Homo sapiens: one gene and its partners. The protein of the gene in region 1 purifies or fractionates together with the protein of each later gene. This does not show direct contact. Each region holds a gene or a part of one and is shown in the gene's direction. Other genes may lie near its edges.

Region 1 (3,653 bases):
ATATGAACTTCAGTCTATTAGGGGACAAATCATGGCTTTTTCAATTTCTCTTTCAGAACAAAGGAAGAATTATGCACGGGACAGTGTCAGCAGTGTGTCAGATATATCTCAATACCGTGTTGAAGTAAGATGCTTTGGTGTTTGCTAGTATTTAGAGTGACCCTTGAGGAACATAAAAATTGGAAGTTAAATCAGAATTCTGTTTTATTTCATTCTTATGATGTATTTTAAGTTGCATTGACCTTTTTGTTTAGATTTTTTAAAACAGATATTACATATAAAGTATCTTGTTAGTCTGTGGTCTATTTTCATAAAGAATGATTTAAAATCATAACTACTATCCATTTATCCTTGCCAGTCTTATTTCACTTATAATAGAATAATGGCTTTTACTTTGTACTATAGAATCTTCTTGAAATTAAGCCTTTGCTAGTTTCAGTGAGCAATTTAGTTTTTAGTTTAACTAAAGTTATTGCCAGTTCTAGTTAAATAATGGTTCTTTTTTAGTTTTTGCCCTCTTTTACGATATTTGCTCTTGATTGGAATTTATCTGGTTGACCTGTGCTTATAATAGAAAATATTTAAGCAGGGAAGTAATTTTTAAATTGCTCTTATTTTCAGTTTTCTACCTATGTCAAGCATGCTTAATCAAATTTAAACAGTTTTGTTTCAGTAAGTGGTTTTAGTGGATTGAATAGTTTGACAGTTCCTATAGACTAGAATTGTGCTGTTGCTACAATCAGTGTCCATAGTTTTGAAGCTCCCATACAGATAGCCTGCTGTTTAAATGCTGCTATGTTCAGCATTTAAATAACCATAATAGAGTGTCAAATAGGGGAAAGTTTATTTTAAGAGAATATTATTTAAGCTGTTAAGAATTTGTTTTAATGTCATGTTTATGTAGTTCAACATGGCTCCGTATGAAACAGATTTAGGTATCTTATGAGTCAAAACACCATTTCTTCTATTCAAAAAAAACCTTGGTTGGCTTTATTCTCTCATTAAAATAGTCATGAAGTTTTAAGAGTACTTTGTGTTTGTCGTTCTCTGCTAGCTGACCTCAGGTTATTTGATTTTCTTTTGGAAAATGTATACTAAGAGGTTGTATGTGTTTGTATGTGTTATAAATCTTTTTCCTTTTTGCCAATTGTAAGCACTTGACTACCTTTGTCCTGGATCGGAAAGATGCTATGATCACTGTTGATGATGGAATAAGGAAATTGAAATTGCTTGATGCCAAGGGCAAAGTGTGGACTCAAGATATGATTCTTCAAGTGGATGACAGAGCTGTGAGCCTGATTGATTTAGAATCAAAGGCAAGTGTGTAAAATTTATACTATTTTATTTTCAAGAAACTCCACAAATATTAATGTTTACAATCATTTCAGATTGTTTGAAAATGGATGGAAGTTTGACAAAATAAAATGTTCACTTTATTTATAGAATGAACTGGAGAATTTTCCTTTAAACACAATCCAGCACTGCCAAGCTGTGATGCATTCATGCAGCTATGATTCAGTTCTTGCACTGGTGTGCAAAGAGCCAACCCAGAACAAGCCAGATCTTCATCTCTTCCAGTGTGATGAGGTTAAGGTAAAAGAATGGTGAAATTTTTGTTTCTTCTTTAAGCAGATTGTCTGGGAGCTTTTGAATTACCTATTTTGATAATATATCTGCATATTAGTTACTAGATTTTTAGTTTCTGAGCATCTCGTAAGGAAAACAAATACCTTAGTATCTTCTCTAGGATTTCCATGGCAAGTAAATAAAGAAATTAGGGTGATGTTAATCAAATCAGTAGTTCACACTTGTAATCCCAGTGCTTTGGGAGGCCAAGGCTGTAAGATGGCTTGAGGCCAGGGGTTTGGGCCCAGCCTGGACAACATGGCAAGACCCAGTCTCTACTAAAAAGGTTTTAAAAATTAGCTAGATGTGGTTGTACACGCTTGTAGTCTCAGCTACTCAGTTGGCTAAGGGAGGAAGATCTCTTGAGCCAGGAGTTGGAGATTACAGTGAGCTATAATCACCCCTCTGCACTCCAGCCTGGGCAACAGATTGAGATTGTGTCTCTTAAAAATAAGATGCATTCTGTTTATTTTTTTAAAGTGTAGATAATATATTAAATTCACATCAAATGCCTTAAACTTATAATTAAAAATTGATTGTTCAGAAATCTTGCTTTGTGGACAGTAAATAATCATGTAATTTGAATTTATTCTGCACTAATGACATAGCATGGATTACTGCAATGAAGTACTTAGACATTTCCCACGATATTGATTTAAAGTTCACCATTTAATTATGTGACTTGATTCATTGCTCAGGATTTGTAATTCCCAGATGATATGTGAAAATAGTTGAGCCAGTAATAACAGGCTATATCCTGAAAGTTTCTATTTCAAAGTACAGTGTAATTTCAAATGATTATAATTTGTGATGCTTTATTGGACCTTAGAAGTTATCTTCAACCTTGAATGTGTTTATTTCCTCAGTTGTTTTCTTTAAAAGAGAAATCATTTTGTGTTAATTGGTACTTTGCCAAAGCAGTGATTTAACATTTTGATGATATATTATAAAATATCCATGTAATTTTATTTTATAAAGAAACTCTAGGAGATTAGCACAGTTACTTGATCTTTTCTGTGTTTTTTGACATTTAAAGATGATAGATAAAGTAAGATTGACTGTAAACTGTATTTTATAATTTTCTTCTAATTTCAATTTACGTCATGGATGACTTTCTAAAAACCTTCTTCTAAAAGAACTGGCATTTAGGTAATTTGTGTAAGTGATATTCATCAGATTTTTGTATAGTGCCTTTTGAAAGTCATAGTATATTATAATTTTTGTAAGGTTAGATATATTCAGTCAATAAATATTAAAGGGAATATTTTGCTTTAAAAATATAGTGAAATTTAATTCAAACATTTTTATAAACCAGAGGCCTAAGTTGAAAAACATTTCAAATTTGATGTTTGTATCTGTGTTCTAAAAAGCCCCCCCCGGGAGCTAAAAGTTACTATGCTGTGAAAAGTTTCTGGATTTTAGGTTTGGGAACAAATGGCTTGCTTTACTTGATATGGAATGGTAATGATAATGGATTCAAAATGTATTTACTGAATATAGTTTTGTCCTAACCCCAAAAGCTCACATACCACGAAGCACTGTATGCATTTACTCATTAGTTTCATACTCTGCATATGAGACATTTTTCGCTTGGCTGGTTAAAAATATAGAGGCAATGAAAAACGCAGTTTCTTTTATATGGCTCATTGTGCAATATTGCTTTTGATTTTTAAAGTTTCTTTATTATAGGACTTCATGCAATGCTCCTGCCCACCTTTGCAGTAAAATTTTTCTTAGAAATATAATAGCCCCAGTATAAGAAGTTGAAGATTCCTAGGCATCTTCAGTTTTCATTTTGGGTTTTTTTAAATAATTATTTTTAATTAAATATCTTTTCATCTTCAGTTTTAGTATCCTATGTAACAGAAAGCCTTTGACACGATATTTGTAATGTCTTATTGAAACTAAATGCTCTTAGGAAGTCACACTGGACTGGGATGCATTGGCCTCTCATTTAACTAGCAATGTGACCTTGGCCAGGCCCTTTTATACAAGTACTCCTCAGTTTTATTAATTAGAAGGAACTG
Region 2 (3,360 bases), on another chromosome or scaffold:
GGATTACAGGCATGAGCCACCGCGCCTGCCCTCCCCTAACTCTAGAAACTTCTGAACTGTATGTATTTCTACTTAAATGTCCCATTCTTTTCCCTACACCTTGACTTTGCATAGATTGCTATTTACCAACCAATAATTTTTCTAGTCAATTTCACAATGAAAATCTCCTTAATCTTCTTAAAGTTAATAACTTTTTTCTTATACTATTCCCAGATTATGTTCATAACTCTATTGTAAACTTCATCAGAGTGCCTTATTTTCATGTCTCTCACCCACCAAACTATACCTTCCTTGAGGGCAGAAATTGTGCCACCAAAAGGCAGATCCAAATACAGTCTGCAATGAAGTGTGAATAAAATTTAAAAACAAAAATTACTTTTAGATCAAAAAATGTTTTAGATGCTTTCTATAAATATTTTTTTAAAAATCACCTGCAGTTGGTTCTATAGTGAGATATAAAACTGAACAACATTCCAAAATCTTAATTTTTTCTTAAAAAAAATTTCCCTGGTAGTTAACAAGTATTTTTTATTTGTACTCACTGTAATTTTCTCTGATTAAGTGTTATTTGGTCACACTTCTCACTTGGCTTTCAAGCCTGCTTTCAATTTATAAGAACAGGAGAAAAAAGAATGCTATAGCAAGTATTTAAATGTAGCAGTTATAGTATAAGAGAATTTTTAAGGAAAAGGGTGATACAGTGATATGTTTTTTTCTGCTTAAAACATCACTGTCAGTATATTTTTGGATCTTGAAAGATCTCTTGTGTTTATGGCTTGGGGCCTGCTTGCTAGGCTTGACTTCAGTACTGTTTACTAAATTATAGCACTGCAATAAGACATTTCACCAATATGATATTGAAGCATAACAAGTTATTTCATAAGGAATGGTAATTATCTAACATTCTAAGCAAATTTGGCAGTGTGACTTGGTGGGGCGCAGTGCTGTCCCTGACACAATGACAGCCTTACTCTCTAAATTAGTAACTTCCGTAGGAGACCCCAGAAGCACACCTCCCTCCCAGCAGTGAAAGCCGAGGATTCCCGTTTTGATTAGCAGGCGCCTTCTGTTCACGATAAAGGGATAAGAATCAGGCAGTGATGGCAGCGGAGTTCATGCTTCATTAAGGCAGGCATTGCAAACTAGTTCAGAGGAGAGAATCCACGATGACAGCACATTCTGTGCCATGGAGAACATTCTTAAATCAAGCCTCCAGTGGAGGAAGGACTCAAGAATGAAATAGCACCAGATAACGGGGCATCATTAGACTTGTAAAGCAAAGCTTCCATTTTCTATTTTTATATAAACCATTATTAATGCCTTTAAAACAACTGTGATATCTGGACAAATAAAATAGAAATGACTTCTTAAGATGATTGCAACTTTTAGTCTTGATTTATAAAAATTATTCTACATAATTTTAGTAGGGTAACTGATAATTTTTCTCACTTTTTTTTTGTTGTAGGGTGAAAATCCTATTTATAAGAGTGCCGTAACAACTGTGGTCAATCCGAAGTATGAGGGAAAATGAGTACTGCCCGTGCAAATCCCACAACACTGAATGCAAAGTAGCAATTTCCATAGTCACAGTTAGGTAGCTTTAGGGCAATATTGCCATGGTTTTACTCATGTGCAGGTTTTGAAAATGTACAATATGTATAATTTTTAAAATGTTTTATTATTTTGAAAATAATGTTGTAATTCATGCCAGGGACTGACAAAAGACTTGAGACAGGATGGTTACTCTTGTCAGCTAAGGTCACATTGTGCCTTTTTGACCTTTTCTTCCTGGACTATTGAAATCAAGCTTATTGGATTAAGTGATATTTCTATAGCGATTGAAAGGGCAATAGTTAAAGTAATGAGCATGATGAGAGTTTCTGTTAATCATGTATTAAAACTGATTTTTAGCTTTACAAATATGTCAGTTTGCAGTTATGCAGAATCCAAAGTAAATGTCCTGCTAGCTAGTTAAGGATTGTTTTAAATCTGTTATTTTGCTATTTGCCTGTTAGACATGACTGATGACATATCTGAAAGACAAGTATGTTGAGAGTTGCTGGTGTAAAATACGTTTGAAATAGTTGATCTACAAAGGCCATGGGAAAAATTCAGAGAGTTAGGAAGGAAAAACCAATAGCTTTAAAACCTGTGTGCCATTTTAAGAGTTACTTAATGTTTGGTAACTTTTATGCCTTCACTTTACAAATTCAAGCCTTAGATAAAAGAACCGAGCAATTTTCTGCTAAAAAGTCCTTGATTTAGCACTATTTACATACAGGCCATACTTTACAAAGTATTTGCTGAATGGGGACCTTTTGAGTTGAATTTATTTTATTATTTTTATTTTGTTTAATGTCTGGTGCTTTCTGTCACCTCTTCTAATCTTTTAATGTATTTGTTTGCAATTTTGGGGTAAGACTTTTTTTATGAGTACTTTTTCTTTGAAGTTTTAGCGGTCAATTTGCCTTTTTAATGAACATGTGAAGTTATACTGTGGCTATGCAACAGCTCTCACCTACGCGAGTCTTACTTTGAGTTAGTGCCATAACAGACCACTGTATGTTTACTTCTCACCATTTGAGTTGCCCATCTTGTTTCACACTAGTCACATTCTTGTTTTAAGTGCCTTTAGTTTTAACAGTTCACTTTTTACAGTGCTATTTACTGAAGTTATTTATTAAATATGCCTAAAATACTTAAATCGGATGTCTTGACTCTGATGTATTTTATCAGGTTGTGTGCATGAAATTTTTATAGATTAAAGAAGTTGAGGAAAAGCATTTCTGGTTGGTGGGTAGTTCACTTATGAAGCTAAAACATAATTCTTTAAAAAAATGTACTAGGGACATAAGGAGAGTGGTATGGTGAAATACAGACTTGAAGACTGTCCTTGGGCTCTCTGAATCATGGTGGATAGATCCTTACTTATCCTGCTACGCTGGGAGAGAGGTTTCATCCCAATATTAAGCAGAATTAACTTTATGAACATCTTAGAGCCATTAGTAGGTGCTGGAAATTGTATCATTTTATTTAAGATATAGATAGGGGATTGTTAACTTTTCTGATAAGAAAAATTAGGAAAAATTTTACTTTTATTTGGCTTTGGTTTCTGTTTGAAAGGATATATCCATAAGTACTACTTGTGTAAAGCTTATTAGAAGAAATATATGCTGCTTTCTTAAGCATACAACAAATGTCAGAAATATTTGGAGGAGAAAAAGTTTCAGCCTTACTAGCCTTTCACATTTATACAATCCCTTCACATCCTGTTAATCTTCTTTTACTTACTCCATTTAAATGTGTTTCATAGCTTAGACTAAAGCATATTTGAGGTGAGAATTACACATTTTTAGTAGT
Region 3 (3,653 bases), on another chromosome or scaffold:
ACCCCAGGATTGCTGTGGAGCCTGAGACCCCCCTGCTAGGAGAGGGGGTTGAGATTTGAGCCTTTGACTCAACTCCTGCTGACCCAATATGAACCAGCCATGGAGGTCTGTGGTCGGCCTCCCCTAGAAGGAGTCAGAAGTGGTCTGGGGCCATATGTAGGGAGGAGGTGTGTAAAATCAGGGTTCTCGGGCAAGAAAAGATCTTACACTCTGGGGGTGAGACAGCTTCCCCTCTTTTCTTCCTCTTCCCACTTTGTCCTTTTCCAAGTAAGAGATAGAGTCACCCCATCTCCACTCCTGCCAAGTTCACTTCACTGCCCTTTACTGGCCTATTGCCTTTGCCCTGCACTGGGCCCAGGGAACCTCCCACTGTCCTCAGTGGGCGGGGCTACAGGTAGAATGTATTTTGAGGGTCCCAGGAGTTCATAATTGCAGGCCTTGCCTCAACACAGAGCCTGGTGTTTTGCAGAACACTTGCAGAGCCATTATCTCTGTGAGCCTTATGGCAGTTGTGGCTAGGCAGGGAAGGGACCACTTATCGCCCCACTTGTAGATGAGGACCCAAAGCCTCCCAGAGGTAGGTAGAGACATGCCCGGAAGCAGGAACAGAATCAGATCCATGTTCTCCAAATTCTAGCCCCCTTTCTCCCAAACTTATTCTGGACAGTTTGTCCTGTCCCTGATGATAGGCTTGGATCAGGGGTTGCAGGTCTAGGGGCCTGCGAACCAGCCCCCTGAGCAGCTGGGCAGCGGGGAAGCCTCAGTGACTGGCCCCTACCTAGACTGGGCCATTTCCCCAGCTGCCAGCCAGCTCCTACCCCAGCAAAGGCCCTGTCTCTCCTGAGGGATGCCATAATCAGGGCCCAGAGGACAGTGGTGAGCAACAAGGCCACTGCCAGAAGAGGCCAACCTGGGGCTGTGGGTGTGATGAAGAGCGCTGTTCCCCTCCTTTTTCTCCCCTCTTACTCTTTGGCCAGCCAGGCCCTGCCCACTCACTGTCCCCTAGGGCAGTGGATTTTAAGGAGGCTTGGCTCCTCCCTGTCGGCCTGCCCTGCCCAAGTCAGCCTACCCTGCTACTCCCCCTTAGGAGCCTCACATCTGGCTGGGTCTTCCCTGGCACTGTAGAGGTGGAGGCCCTCTTCAGTTCTGGAGTTCGTCTTATCTCCCAACTCTGATGCTCCTTCCCTTGGTTTCTGGGCTCCCTTGAACTCCCCTAGCTCCGTGCTCACGGCCATCTCAGGGTCTCCCCTGCTTGCAGCTGCACTTGGTACAGCCTGTGCCAGCCCCTGAGGGACCGGCTGCAGCTTCACTGGCAAACAGGCGGGCAAGGGGCACAGGGCTGCTGGCCGGAGCTGCCTGCACTCTGCAGGTAGGGTTCAGGCAGGGGCCGGGGTGCGCAGGGGACGGGGTCCTGGATCTGGGGCAGGCCCCTCCCTCTTCCCTTTGTCCAGCTTTGGGACCAGTCCTGGAGTATTGGGAAATGGGCGCAGAGACTTTAAGGCCGGCTACCTAGGCAGATCCTGTAATCCTTCCCTAAGCCAGGGTGGAGGGTGCTGGAGGGGAGCACTCCTTACAGCCGGCTGAGAGAGGCAGTTTGGGTGTGGAAAGCTTCTCACTGAGGAGCTGGGGCTGCTGAGCCCAGGGAGGGTCCTTCGGGGTAGGCTGGAAGCCTTGGCAGCCCCCATAGACCAGCAGCTTCACGGCCCTCTGGTGCCAGCCTCCTCGTGGTACAGATGGAAAGTCTAGTCTTGATGAAGAAAGACCCCTGGCTTCTGACACTCCCTTCCCCAGGGCCCTCTGTGGTGCCCCCGGTCCAGATCCTGGGGCCTGAGTGGCATAGACTGTTTGTGGCAGCTCCTTTTGGAGGGGCAGGCTAAGGCCAGGCCACATTTTGGCAGCCCTGGGGCCCTGGGGGACAGGGCGGGCCTCCAGGGAGGAGGTAGGGTTCCCTTGCCAACCAGGCCCTCCACTTCCTCTCCTCTTCCCTTGAGGGCTCGTCCCTAGGTCAGAGCTGAGCAGCAGCTGCGGCTTCTCTTGTGCTGCACAGGTCTAGGATGTCAGGCACAGGGCCCTGCCCCTTTGAGTGGAGAATCTGCTAGTCCAGGGGCGGGTCTGATCCTGGGTTGCCTGCCCTGGGAGCTGCAGGCTGGGGGTCCCTGGTGTGGCCGCCTGGTCCTTACCAAGCACCTGGTGTGTGTCTCTGAGGGTGTCTGTGTGCGTACGTGCATGTGTGTGCACACGTACACACGTGCACCTGCCTCTGGGAGGTAGTCACGTGGAGATTCTCATGGCCTGAGGGATCAGGCTCTAGTCTCATTTGTGGAGGTAATGAATCTACTTGTTCTAGGGGCAGACTCAGAATCCCCACCCCAAGCCTGGAATGGGTGAGGGGTCCCTGCGTTAGAGGTGAGGGTGAGCCCTTTGGGAGCCACACACACAGGCCTACTCCTCAGCTACTGAGGAGGGACTGCCCTCTTTCCCGACCCTGGGCTCTCTCGGGAGCTGGCCTAGGCAGGGCAGGGGCCCAGGGCTTTCAGGGGCTGCCCCTCCACCCTTTGACCCTGGCATCACTGTCTCTGCAGAGGCTCGGGGTGGTCTGGGGGCCCCTCCGCTGCAGTCTGCCCGATCCCTGCCGGGCCCCGCCCCCTGCCTCAAGCACTTCCCGCTCGACCTGCGCACGTCTATGGATGGCAAATGCAAGGAGATCGCCGAGGTATCACCTGGCACCACCCGCACCCTCACCCCGTGTCTCCATGCCCTGCCTCTGCTCCCCACACCCCTCACCTCAAGCTGTCCCCTCACCTCACGCTTGGCTGTCTCCTGATCCTCAGCCTCTCCCAGGTACCCCTGGTCCTGCTGCCCTCACCCCATCCCCAGACTCTGTAGGAGAGTGCCCGAGGGCGGAGGGCCAGCCATGCTGACCTTCCTTCCCTCCCCCCAGGAGCTGTTCACCCGCTCACTGGCTGAGAGCGAGCTCCGTAGTGCCCCGTATGAGTTCCCCGAGGAGAGCCCCATTGAACAGCTGGAGGAGCGGCGGCAGCGGCTGGAGCGGCAGATCAGCCAGGATGTCAAGTGAGCCCGGCAGGCAGCTGCTTAGTCTCCCTCCATACCCTTCCAGACCCTTTCAGAGCCCCTTTTCTGCCTCTTTCCCTCGCACCCTGCCTTGGGGGGTCTGCACAGGGAGCATAGAGTGGGCTTTGGAGTCGGGCTGCTGGGTTCTGTTCTGTCTTCTAGCCGCCGGTGTGGCTGGGTCATGTTGCTTAACTTATGGGTCTGCTTTCTCATCTCTAAAGTGAGTGAGAACAGCACAGGGTTCTGCAGCTCTGCCTTTGAGGATCACATGTGACAACATGTGCACAGCACCTAGTGCGGTGCTGGGACCTGGGAGCAAGGGCCGTCCCTCGGGATCTGCCTGACTTCTCACCCCTCTTGCCTCTAGGCTGGAGCCAGACATCCTGCTTCGGGCCAAGCAAGATTTCCTGAAGACGGACAGTGACTCGGACCTACAGTGAGGAGGGCAGAGGGGCACAGGGGATGCGGAGCTGCAGCCTGCCCTTCTGCCGGCTCTAAACCCCTCCCTTGAATGCACCCCCTGCAGGCTCTACAAGGAACAGGGTGAGGGGCAGGGTGACCGGAGCCTGCGGGAGCGTGAT

Evidence for each region.
Region 2: the proteins of EPS8 (region 1) and ITGB1 purify together in Homo sapiens (pull-down; one study listed by IntAct). This does not show direct contact.
Region 3: the proteins of EPS8 (region 1) and AMPD2 purify together in Homo sapiens (affinity purification with mass spectrometry; 2 studies listed by BioGRID and IntAct, with this or other methods). This does not show direct contact.

What each region holds. Positions count from the first base shown.
Region 1 is NC_000012.12:15,667,327-15,670,979, reverse strand, and holds part of EPS8 (epidermal growth factor receptor kinase substrate 8), read left to right. Parts: intron 1-56; coding exon 57-124; intron 125-1,154; coding exon 1,155-1,316; exon of another isoform or gene 1,317-1,320; intron 1,321-1,443; coding exon 1,444-1,593; intron 1,594-3,653. UniProt on the Homo sapiens protein: Signaling adapter that controls various cellular protrusions by regulating actin cytoskeleton dynamics and architecture. Depending on its association with other signal transducers, can regulate different processes.
Region 2 is NC_000010.11:32,899,741-32,903,100, reverse strand, and holds the end of ITGB1 (integrin beta-1 isoform 1A precursor), read left to right. Parts: intron 1-1,465; coding exon 1,466-1,531; 3' UTR 1,532-2,783; downstream 2,784-3,360.
Region 3 is NC_000001.11:109,622,721-109,626,373, forward strand, and holds part of AMPD2 (AMP deaminase 2), read left to right. Parts: intron 1-1,308; exon of another isoform or gene 1,309-1,369; intron 1,370-2,582; coding exon 2,583-2,713; intron 2,714-2,941; coding exon 2,942-3,072; intron 3,073-3,439; coding exon 3,440-3,508; intron 3,509-3,598; coding exon 3,599-3,653. UniProt on the Homo sapiens protein: AMP deaminase plays a critical role in energy metabolism. Catalyzes the deamination of AMP to IMP and plays an important role in the purine nucleotide cycle.